Regions from separate parts of the Homo sapiens genome. Here region 1 is linked to region 2. The links come from fine-mapping of genetic effects on gene expression. A gene starts in region 2. The other region holds a variant in brackets. All regions are shown on one strand. Distances are from middle to middle.

The links. PIP is the estimated chance that this variant, and not a neighbour inherited with it, causes the effect.
Region 1: its variant is the best candidate, but not a certain one, in a credible set for the expression of AZIN1 in whole blood (INTERVAL, PIP 0.78).

Annotation. Positions count from the first base shown.
Region 1 is chr8:102,883,267-102,888,642 of GRCh38, forward strand. All of the region lies in intron 2 of MAILR (macrophage interferon regulatory lncRNA), which reads left to right. It overlaps LOC124902000 (a long non-coding RNA gene), which reads right to left. Exons shown (of 2, transcript XR_007061041.1): 2 at 1-3,881. Among named protein-coding and RNA genes, the nearest start is that of MAILR, 22 kb to the left of the region's middle. RefSeq lists enhancers at 897-1,096, 1,747-1,936 and a silencer at 2,547-2,596. The variant T/C (reference allele first, on the strand shown) is at 2,546.
Region 2 is chr8:102,861,051-102,866,365 of GRCh38, forward strand. It overlaps AZIN1 (antizyme inhibitor 1), which reads right to left and starts at 3,113. Exons shown (of 12, transcript NM_148174.4): 1 at 2,757-3,113. It overlaps MAILR (macrophage interferon regulatory lncRNA), which reads left to right and starts at 3,221. Exons shown (of 3, transcript NR_126339.1): 1 at 3,221-3,573. RefSeq lists enhancers at 1,257-1,990, 3,459-4,191 and silencers at 2,340-2,569, 3,230-3,579.

The DNA of each region.
Region 1 (5,376 bases), 22 kb after region 2:
TTAGTGGCCACATCTGGCATATGTAACATTTTTTCCCACAGTGCCTTGTAACACAATCTTGACCCACAGTAAGTTTTCAATATTTTTTAAAATTAAATGAATGAATGACAGAGAAAGAATATTCTGTTTAATCCCTACATTACTACCAGCATTATTTTTCTAAAATTCAGATCTGTTTGTGCTGTTCCTTGTTTAGAAATATTGTGTGACCTCACAATGCCTTTAGAATCTGGTATGAACTCCTTAGATGGTGGGCAGACCTTCCCTCCATCTGTTCTCATGCTCAGCCCCCACATGGTACAGTAGAAAAGTGGCTTCAGCTTTCATGTACCTTGGTCAAATAGGGGCAATAGACACTACCTCAAGGATTGTTGAAAGGATTAAATGAGGCCGGGCATAGTAGTTCACGCCTGTAATCCCAGCTCTTTGGGAGGCAGAGGTGGGCAGATCACTTGAGCTCAGGAGTTTGAGACCAGCTTGGCCAACATGGTGAAACCCGATGTCAACTAAAAATACATAAATTACCCGGGTGTGGTGGCACGAGCTTGTAATCCCAGCTACTCGGGAGGCTGCGACAGGAGAATCGCTTGAACCCAGGAGGTGGTGGTTGGAGGTTGCAGTGAGCCAAGATGGCACCACTGCATTCCAGCCTGGGTGACAGAGTGAGACTTGGTCTCAAAAAAAAAAAAAAAAAAGACGAAGAAGCAGCCAGGCACGGTGGCTCATGCCTGTAATCCCAGCACTTTGGGAGGCCAAGGAGGGAGATCACCTGAGGTCAGGAGTTCGAGACCAGTCTGGCCAACATGGTAAAACCCCATCTCTACTAAAAATACAAAAAATTAGCCGAGTGTGGTGGTGGGCACCTGTAGTCCCAGCTACTCAGGAGACTGAGGCAGGAGAATCACTTGAACCTGGGAGGCGGAGGTTGCAGTGAGCCGAGATTGCGCCACTGTACTCCAGCTTGGGCAATAAGAGTGAAACTCCATCTCAAAAAAAAAAAAAAAGATTAAATGAGGTGTCACCTGAAAATTTCCAGTGTATAGTTGTGATGAGTCAATTAACGTGTTTCCTTTTCACCCTCCTGCATGCTGCTCTTCAGCACACTATACTCTTCACACTTTCAGAGTGTACATGTAATTTCACTTCTCCATATTTTGTTCATGCTTTCCCCACTGCTTTGTGTGTGTCTTCCCCATCTTCCACCTCTCTATAAAAATTAAATGAAAGCTTCAAGACAAGTCTCAAATTGCACTTAGTAAAAGCTTTCTGACTCCCCCAGGAGGGCTTAATTCTTTTTTTATGCTTTCATGTAATTTTATAAGACAATTTCTAAGAAACTTTCATAGACTATCTTATATTACAGTTATTTGTGGACACAACTTGTGGACATGTATCTTAAGAGCCCAACACAATATTAGTTAAACTGAGTTGATTTTTTTGACCAGGAAATTTGGATCTTAAATCTCATAACTGAAATATATCATGAAATCATCCAAAGCATGCTCTCTCTATACATAGTTCCTCTCTTTATGTGATAACACCCAGCCTGGCAGTATAGCACCCTTGCCACCCACAGCTCTCTGGAAGGTACAGCTGTACAAGATAACATGAGGTAATGTGACTTCTGGGGATAGGTGGTGGTGGGGAAGCCCATCACTGCTTAGACCAGCGTCGAACATGCCTGACCCAGGTGGAGTAAATTATTTGCTCAGAAATGACTTGTGTGGTCCAGGTTCTCTCAGAGGAGCCAGGCTAGTTCATGAAGAAGAAGTTTAGTGTGTATTGCCAGTTGATTGTGAGTACTGGAGCTCAGTGGTCTTCCTTGTCTAGATCCAGAAAGAGCAGCCATGTTGTGCCTCACACAGGATGAAGGAGCCGAGGAAGACAGACAGAATGTGGGAGAGGCTGGAGCTGGCTGAGAAGCAAAGACAAGGGGGACACAGAGGGACAAGCCACCCTGTCCCTGAGAATTCCCCAGTTTTCTGGCCAATTTGGGTGAAACCCAGCAACTCTTTGTGTTCCATCCGTCGATACTGTGAGGTCTCTCTATACACTCAGTAAATGCTCCTTTTTACCTCACTGGACTAATGCTTTTTAGAGTCACATGCATGCTGACTTCAACAAAGCAAATTGTTTATCTGAATCAACTCTGCCGTGTACCATGTCCAGTCACTTGAATTTCTATTTCATCTTTGACTCTCCATTTGCTAATTATGACTTTGGGCAAATCTTTTGTTCACTCTGTGTATTTGTCCATTTTCACATTGCTGTAAAGATACTGTTGAGACTGGTATCTTTATAAACTGGTAATTTATAAACAAAAGACGTTTAATTGACTCACAGTTCTGCATGGCTGGAGAGGCCTCAGGAAACTTACAATCATCTTGGAAGGAAAAGGGGAAGCAGGGCGCATCTTACATGGCAGCAGGCAAGAAGAAGAGAAAGGGGTAAGTGCCAGATACTTATCAAACAAGCCCATCTCATGAGAACTCACTATCACGAGAACAGCAGGGGGAACTGCCCTCATGATCCAGTCACCTCCCAC[T/C]AGGACCCTACCTTGACATGTGGGGATTACAATTTGGATTGCAATTCAACATGAGATTTGTGTGGGGACACAGAGCCAAACCATATCACTCTGTGTCTCAGTTTCTTTAGTAGGTAAAATGCAATAATTTCATATGGTGCTTTATCAATTTCCATACATTATCTCATGTGAATTTTTAAAAAGTTCTTATGATACAGGCTAAGAATTTTTCCCCATGTTTTACAAACAAAGGAACTTTCCCAAGATCTCACAATTAAGTCCTAGTGAAATGGGACTCAAACACCAGTCTCTGACTTCTATCTACTCAGGTGGTCATCAACTCTACCTCAGAGAATATAAATTTTTTTTTAATGGTAAGTCTTTGCAGATTGATTAAGATCCCCTTGAGAATTTTTGGTAAAAGACTTTGAAGTCATAAGAGGTAACAGTGACTTCATATTATATTTGTATGAGTCCTGTTTCAAAATATATTGATAATGTGGCTGGGTGTGATAGCTCATGACTGTAATCCAGCACTTTGGGAGGCCGAGGTGGGTGGATCACCTGAGGTCAGGAGTTCAAGACCAGCCTGGCCAACATGGCGAAACCCCATCTCTACTAAAAATACAAAAATTAGCCAGGCATGGTGGCACATGCCTGTAACCCCAGCTACTTGGGAGGCTGAGGCAGGAGAATCGCTTGAACCCAGAAGGCAGAGGTTGCAGTGAGCTGAGATCATGCCATTGCACTCCAGCCTGGGCAACAAAGTGAGACTCCATCTCAAGATAGATAGATAGATAGATAGATAGATAGATAGATAGATAGATAATGAATTCTATGATAGGACCACTAGAGTGGAGATCTGTAGTTCTAATAAAGTACTTTATTTCTAAAAATATGCATAATACTTGCCTGTGTCATGGGCTTCATGAAGAATTCCAGTTACTATCTGAAAGTTTAATTGCAAGGTTTGGAGCTCAAGATGTTACTTATCCTCATGGGCAGTACCTGTTACTTCCCCACTGTAAAATATGCTAGCTCAGGTCACAAGGAACTTTGAGTGCTAGGATAGTACCCCACGGTCCAGTTCCCCAGAACTTCTTCCCAGTGTCTCCACAGCCACTCACACAGCCTGAGCAGGTCTTGCCACTGGCAGCTCTCTTCCCCTACTTCCTCCAGGCCAGGGGTTGGCCTGATTCTGCTTAGAGCCTGCATGCGGCTCCCTCAGAGCCTTGGGGTGGCCAATCTTTGCTGCTTCCCAGAACCACCTTGTACTCTTCCATGCAGAGCCCTGTTGAGTCACCATGCCTTCCTCCAGCTGCTGCCACAGACCACATGGCTTCTTTCTCAATTAACTCTGAAAGAGAAAAGTACGTTATGCAAACCAGGTGGGAGCACAAGAGCGCAACCCCCTTCCTCCCCAACACAGAGAAGCACACTGGGGCTCCTTGTGTAATTTAGAGGTTAACTAACACATCATGTTGCAATTGTGCCTATGTGAAAAAGAAATGGAAGGAGGAACCAGGTTTGGAGCTGATTCTCTGCTGCAAGGGCTTACCCTCAGTCTGACCTGTGCAGTAAGACTGAGAGAAGCACTAAGGGTATGGCTGGAAAAGATCATAATATTAAAACTATTTTACTATAATGATGATAGCTACCATTGTAGTGATATGCAATAATATTAGTAACACTGAAGTCTTTACTATATGCCATCCTGTGTGTTAAATCTTTTATGTATGTTGTGTATATAATACATGTAAAGCCTTGTTGTTGTTGTTTTTGAGACATAGTCTCACTCTGTCGCCCGGGCTGGAATGCAGTGGCGTGATCTCAGCTCGCTGCAACCTCTACCTCCCAGGTTCAAGCAATTCTCCTGCCTCAGCCTCCCGAGTAGCTGGGACTACAGGCGCCTGCCACCACGCCCAGCTAATTTTTTTGTATTTTAGTAGAGACAGGGTTTCAATGTGTTGGCCAGGCTGGTCTTGAACTCCTGAGCTCAGGCAATCTGCCTGCCTCGGCCTCCCAAAGTGCTAGAATTACAGATGTGAGCCACCGCACATAGCCCATGTAAAGCCTTTAACATAGTGCCTGGCACAAAGTAAGTGCTCAATAAAAGATAATCATAGCATTATTATTTTGTTTATCTTCACAGCCATCCTGAATTATTTGACAAGCCTTTGCTCTTCAGTCAGTCGTTCCTTTAGGGAATGTTTATTGAGCCTGTACTATTTACCCAGCACTATATATATATATATATATATATATATATATATATATATATATATATATATTTTTTTTTTTTTTTTTTTTTTGAGACAGAGTTTTGCTTTTGTTGCCCAGGCTGGAGTGCAATGGCTCGATCTCGGCTCACTGCAACCTCTGTCTCCTGGGTTCAAGCAATTCTGCAGCCCCAGCTTCTCAAGTAGCTGGGATTACAGGCGCCTGCCACCACGCCTGGCTAATTTTGTATTTTTAGTAGAGATGGGGTTTCACCATGTTGGTCAGGCTGGTCTTGAACTCCTGACCACAGGTGATCCGCCTGCCTCAGTCTCCCGAAGTCCTGGGATTACAGACATGAGCCACTCCACCCAGCCTTCCGAGCACTATATTAGGCGCTGGGGATACTTAGAAGAGTGAATGCCCTTTCGGACATGGGTTCCAATCTGGCTTAACCACTATCTTTCTGGGTAACTTTGAGCATGCTTCTTAAGCTTTCTGAGCCTGAGTTTATTCAACTGTTAAATATGTACAATAATTTCTATGTCATAAGATTGTTGATAGGACTGGAAACACATGCAAAGGGCTTAGCCCAGCTCAGTGTTCATACAAGGAGAAGCTCCTCAGCCAGGCCT
Region 2 (5,315 bases):
ATCCAAATAAAAGTCTCGAACGTTTCATAGTGCCAAAGTCAGTTTCTTAGTTTTAACAAATGTACTGTAATAACGTAAGATGTTACTAATAACTGGGTGGGAAGTATGAAGAAACTGTATCTTTGTGACTTTGCTGCGCAACTAAGATACTCCAAAATAAAGTTTATTTTTCATTATTATTATTATTTTTTGAGATGAAGTCCCGCTGCTCTTGTCCCCCAGGCTGGAGTGCCCTGGTGAGATCTCGGCTCACTGCAACCTCTGCCTCCCCAGTTCAAGCGATTCTCCTGACTCAGCCTCCCGAGGAGCTGGGATTACAGGAGCCAGCCACCACGCCCGGCTAATTTTTGTATTTTTAGTAGAGATGGAGTTTCAGCATGTTAGCCAGGCTGGTCTCCTGACCTCAGGCAATCCACCCGCCTCAGCCTCCCAAAGTGCTGGGATTACAGGCTTGAGCCACCGCGCCCGGCCTAATAAAGTTTATTTTTAAAAAAAACAACCAAGGGACAGTCACCTAATGGGCTACTACTCAGCAACACAAATAATCTACTGATAATCTACAGATAAAGACAACAGGGATGAATATTAAAAATGTGCTGAGTTAAAAGAAGCCTTTTATACCAAAGAATGCATACTGTATGATTCCATTCATGTGGAAAGTCTGGAATAGACGAAAATAATCTATGGGTTTAAAAAAAAAAATCAAGATCAGCCGGGCGCAGTGGCTCACGCTTGTAATCCCAGCACTCTGGGAGGCCGAGATGGGCGGATCATGAGGTCAGGAGTTCCAGACCAGCCTGACCAACAGTGAAACCCCTTTTCTACTAAAAATACAAAAATTAGCTGGGCGTGGTGGGCGCCTGTAATCCCAGCTGCTCGGGAGGCTGAGGAAGGAGAATCGCTTGAACCTGGGAAGCGGAGGTTGCAGTAAGCCGAGATTGTGCCACTGCACTCCAGCCTGGGCGACAGAGCTAGACTCCAAAAAAAAAAAACCAAGATCGTGGTTGGCTCTGTGGTGACTGGAAGACGATTTGAAAGGACAAGAAAAAACTTTTGAGGGTGATGGCGATGTTCTACATCTTGACAAAAGGTTTAGGTTACACAGCTGTATTTTTGTCAACGTTCATCAAATTGCATACTTAAGACTTGTGGGTTTATACTGATGTGAATTTTACCCTCTAAGATTTAAAAAATAGTAAGCGGTACTGAGCTCTATTTAATATGCACATACTAAAGTTGGAGGGGTCTCCAACTTTACTTTGAAATGCATCGACAAATAAGGTAAAATGTTAATTACAGAATCTAGGTGGAAGTATAACTCTTTTTCACCTTCTGTTTGAAAACGTATGTGATAAAACCTTGGGGGAGAAAGGCACTGACTACTCGACCTCACTTATCACCACCGATAATCATTTTCTTTTGGAGTCTTTCCTAAACTCCTTGGGGCTTATTTCTAATCATGATCAGCATCTGCACGCTCTCGTATATGTAAAAGAAATTAATGAATTATGAGGGCCTTTCTAGACAATCATGAGCCATGTTTCTGCCAACCCTTGCTGTATTTGATGTGCTTTGATGTACTTCTACTTTGTGCTTTGATGCACCTCTACATCAACCTTCGCTGAGCACAAGGCAATTCCCCCTCCTTTGAGTCCTTAGATTCCCACCCAGTCTGGGAATTCACGATAGAAACACGACGGGACACAGAACTAATATAACCAAGATGCCACCACAAAATTCAGTTAAATGTGCTGAAACATGAGGCGGTAAACTGTGTCCCCGACTGTTTCGGGTTTCTGAACCAGCAGCTTTGTCTACGAAACACACATTCAGGATACCGTGTAAGGGTTAGAACATGTTACCACCACCAACTGTTGGCAGTCAAGACAGTAGTTGATAAGCCACCCGTCTACCAATCTCCCTCTTTCTGCCTAGGAACCATGGCGCGGACGGAAAAACGAAGCCATGGTGACTAATCCTCAGGCTCCAGGAGGTGACTGGGGTGAGTGAAGGCGACTTGACCCAATCAGGAGCGCCGCAGGGGCGGAGCAGCAGCCTCGAGGCTTCCAGAAGGGGCCAAAAGCCTCTCGCTGGCTACCTGACACCGGGGCTTCCCCGCCGCCAGGCCCCAAGTGGCGTCAACTTTCCTCCACCAGAGGGGGACCGCGCTCCCCGCGCCCCCCAGGAATCCGACTTCCTCCGCAGCTGTCACCAGAGGCCGGCGCGGGGCCCGCCCCGCTCCATTCATAACCAGGACCCCAGCCGTTGCAGCCCACAGCGCCGCCCGCCCGCCGGGCTTCGGGAGGCAAAGGTGGCGGCGGCGCACCGCGGAGTAGGGGCTGCGGGACCCCGGCCCCTCAGGGCTGCGGCCGGGCCCCCTCCCCGGAAACAGCAATGCACCACGGGAGAGGGGTGGGGGCCGCACGCCGCCAGGAGGGGACGGCGACCCCCGGCGGCGAGACCCCCGCGCGCTCCCCCACTGGCACACGCCCCCTCGCCCCAACTGCTGCGGCTCCGGCTCCGCCAAGCGTCCAGCAGCCGCCCGAAGGTCCTGAGGCGCGGCCCGCCGCCCAGCCCCGCCGCCGCCGCCGCCGCCGGGGGCACAGACAGCCGCCGCCGCCATGTTCGAGGCGGCCGGCCGCGGGGCGCTGCGGGGACGTCTTAAGGGCGGCGGGGCCCAGCCGGAGCCCCCCAGCCGCCCCCCAAGGCCAGCCCCGCGTCCTGGCCCCTCCCGCGCTCCTCGGCTCGGTACTCACGTGAGATAACGGCCCAAAGAGTCGGGTAAAGCGTCTTCTCTTTTTCGGCGGAATTTTTAAAGAGGGATGTGGTTACCTTGAGCAGAAATACCCAAGGCGGCCTGGGCCATAGGCTGCGGGAACGACTTGGGGGTAAAAGCGCGGCACCGACACCAGCTGTGTGCAGCAGTGGCGGCGGCGGCCGAAGGAGAAATAGAACAGCGCAGGCAAAAGAAGAAAGGCGCGGGCTGGGTGGGAAGAGGATTCGGACTCGTCACACTGCAGAGCAGCAGAGCGAGAAAGGATGAGAAGAGGCAGAGAAGGCGACGGCAGAAGAAAAAAGGAAAAACTGCGGCCGCGATCAGAGCCTGAAAGTGTGAGAAGGCGGCGCCAGCGACGCCAGTATTTATATTAGGGGGCGTGGCCTGGTGACATCACAGCTGGCCGGGCAGCCGCGCGAGCGGGGCGGAACCCGGTTGCAGCCCGGAGAAAAGGGAGGGGGACGGAAGAGGAAGGAGGACTGAGCCCGGGAGAGAGAGGGGAGGGGTCGGCGCGCGACCGGGTCATGCAGGTGCAGACTGGCCGGTCGCTTCCCGCCCTCCAGCCACCCGCAGCTCCCCGGCAGGCGAAGGGCGGCCGCGCGGGTGTGGGCCGAGAGAGGGAGGCGGCTCGGCTGGAGCGCGCCGTCCGCCCGACCCCCGCCGCCTCTCGGGCGCCTGCGCTCACGCTGCGGGGCCCAGCGCATTGTGAGCCGGGTCGAGCTCCACGCTGGCAGCGTCTGAGAGCTGTCCTGGGCCGGAGGTGGCGCGAACCCTGTGCGGCCTAGAGTGGGCCTGGGGTAAGCCTGTCGGCGCCGCTGCCGAGCCTTCGCGTCCAGCTCCCTCCGCTTTGTGAGGCCTGTAGTTTACCCTGGGGAGTGTCCTCCCGGGCTGAGGCGCCCGCCCTCGGTGATGCGGTACTCCTTTAGGGAAGCGAGTTCCTCGTGGCCAGAAAGGACCGGCCCAGTGTCCGGGTGTTAAAAAGGGTTGTGACCACGTGAAAATGTCCTCAGTGCTCGAACGTTGCAATACGGTGCAGTGGAAATTTTTTAAAGGAATATGGCTTTTATGTCTTCATTTTTAAAAGGATTGGTGGAGTCAGTCCCAAGCAGGACCCGCGTTGGAGAGGGGATTACTGATGTTACAAGCGCACATTACTTCAATCCCCTAGGTCTCATTTTCGCGGTCGTTTTAATTTTTCTACTCCACAACAGACTTTTTTTTACTAGGGGTTCTAAGATTACCTACATAGCTTTTAATTTATTTTCATCTTTTTTAGATGCCTCAGCACTAATGATCATGATCAGAGACCCCGAGTTCTCTCGTGCTGCTACGCTTCGCAACACATAGCACAAATGGAATATGTGTTGACACACCCCTCTGAAGTTAAGATCTTTGATATTAAGACCCTGACTTTTTTCCCTTTCATTCTTCCGAACCCTCTGTGTACTTTGAGCAGCACTGTGGTTGATTAATAAATCATCAAATGTGAAAGGAAGAAAGCGACCTTCCTGTGTGGAAAAGCAGGGTATCTTGCGAGGCTGTATGAGAGAGTATTCGGTAGAATCAGGAGCTGTGGACGCATTCCTGATTTTGTTTTTCCTTATTTTGCTCGGCTATATCTTGGCTCTGTCTTTTATTTCTTCAAAGTTCTGTTCTATTCAGAACATTTGAAAACACAGCCATTCACTAGACCCTCTCTGGTGGAGGAAGAAAAACTAGAGATGAATACAATATTTGAAACCTTGCTTACAATCTAGCAGGGGAAATAAGACAGCAATACAAAATAAATTGTTGGCTGATACAAATAAAATGCTGCAAGGACCAAGTGGAGGGAAGAGATGATTGCAGCTAAGTGAGAGAAAGGCTGCTGGGGAAAGGTAAAGAGTGATTTTGAGAAAAGCCTTTCTAGACAAAGGTGCTTCCTTTTTCACCAAACTCGCCTGTTTGGTGATTTTGAGAGTAGATGTTCCAGTGTTCCAGGCAAGGGAAACGGATGAGAGAAGGCACAGAAGTGGGTGGGTTTAGAGAATTGTGAATAGCCTTTCTGGTTCCAGCATAGGGGCATGGTTGCAAATGAGATTGAAACGGTAGATTAGGGTGACATCAAGAAGACATTGGAGGCTGGGCGCAGTGGCTTACACCTGTATTCCCAGCACTTTGGGAGGCCGAGGAGGGCGGATTACCTGAGGTCGGGAATTCGAGACCAGCCTGACCAACATGGAGAAAACCCGGCTCTACTAAAACTACAAAATTAGCTGGGCATGGTGGCACATGGCTGTAATCCAGCTACTCAGGAAGCTGAGGCAGGAGAATCTCTAGAACCTGGGAGGCGGAAGTTGCAGTGAGCCGAGATCACACCATTGCACTCTCCAGTCTGGGCAACAAGAGTGAAACTGCGTCTCAAAAAAAAAAAAAAAAACAAAACAAAAAATTGGAACTTGGACTTTATTCTGGAACCATATAAACAGGAACATGATATGCTCAAAAATATGTTTTTTAAAAGATTACTCCAGCACCAGTGGGTGGGATTGAAAAGAGG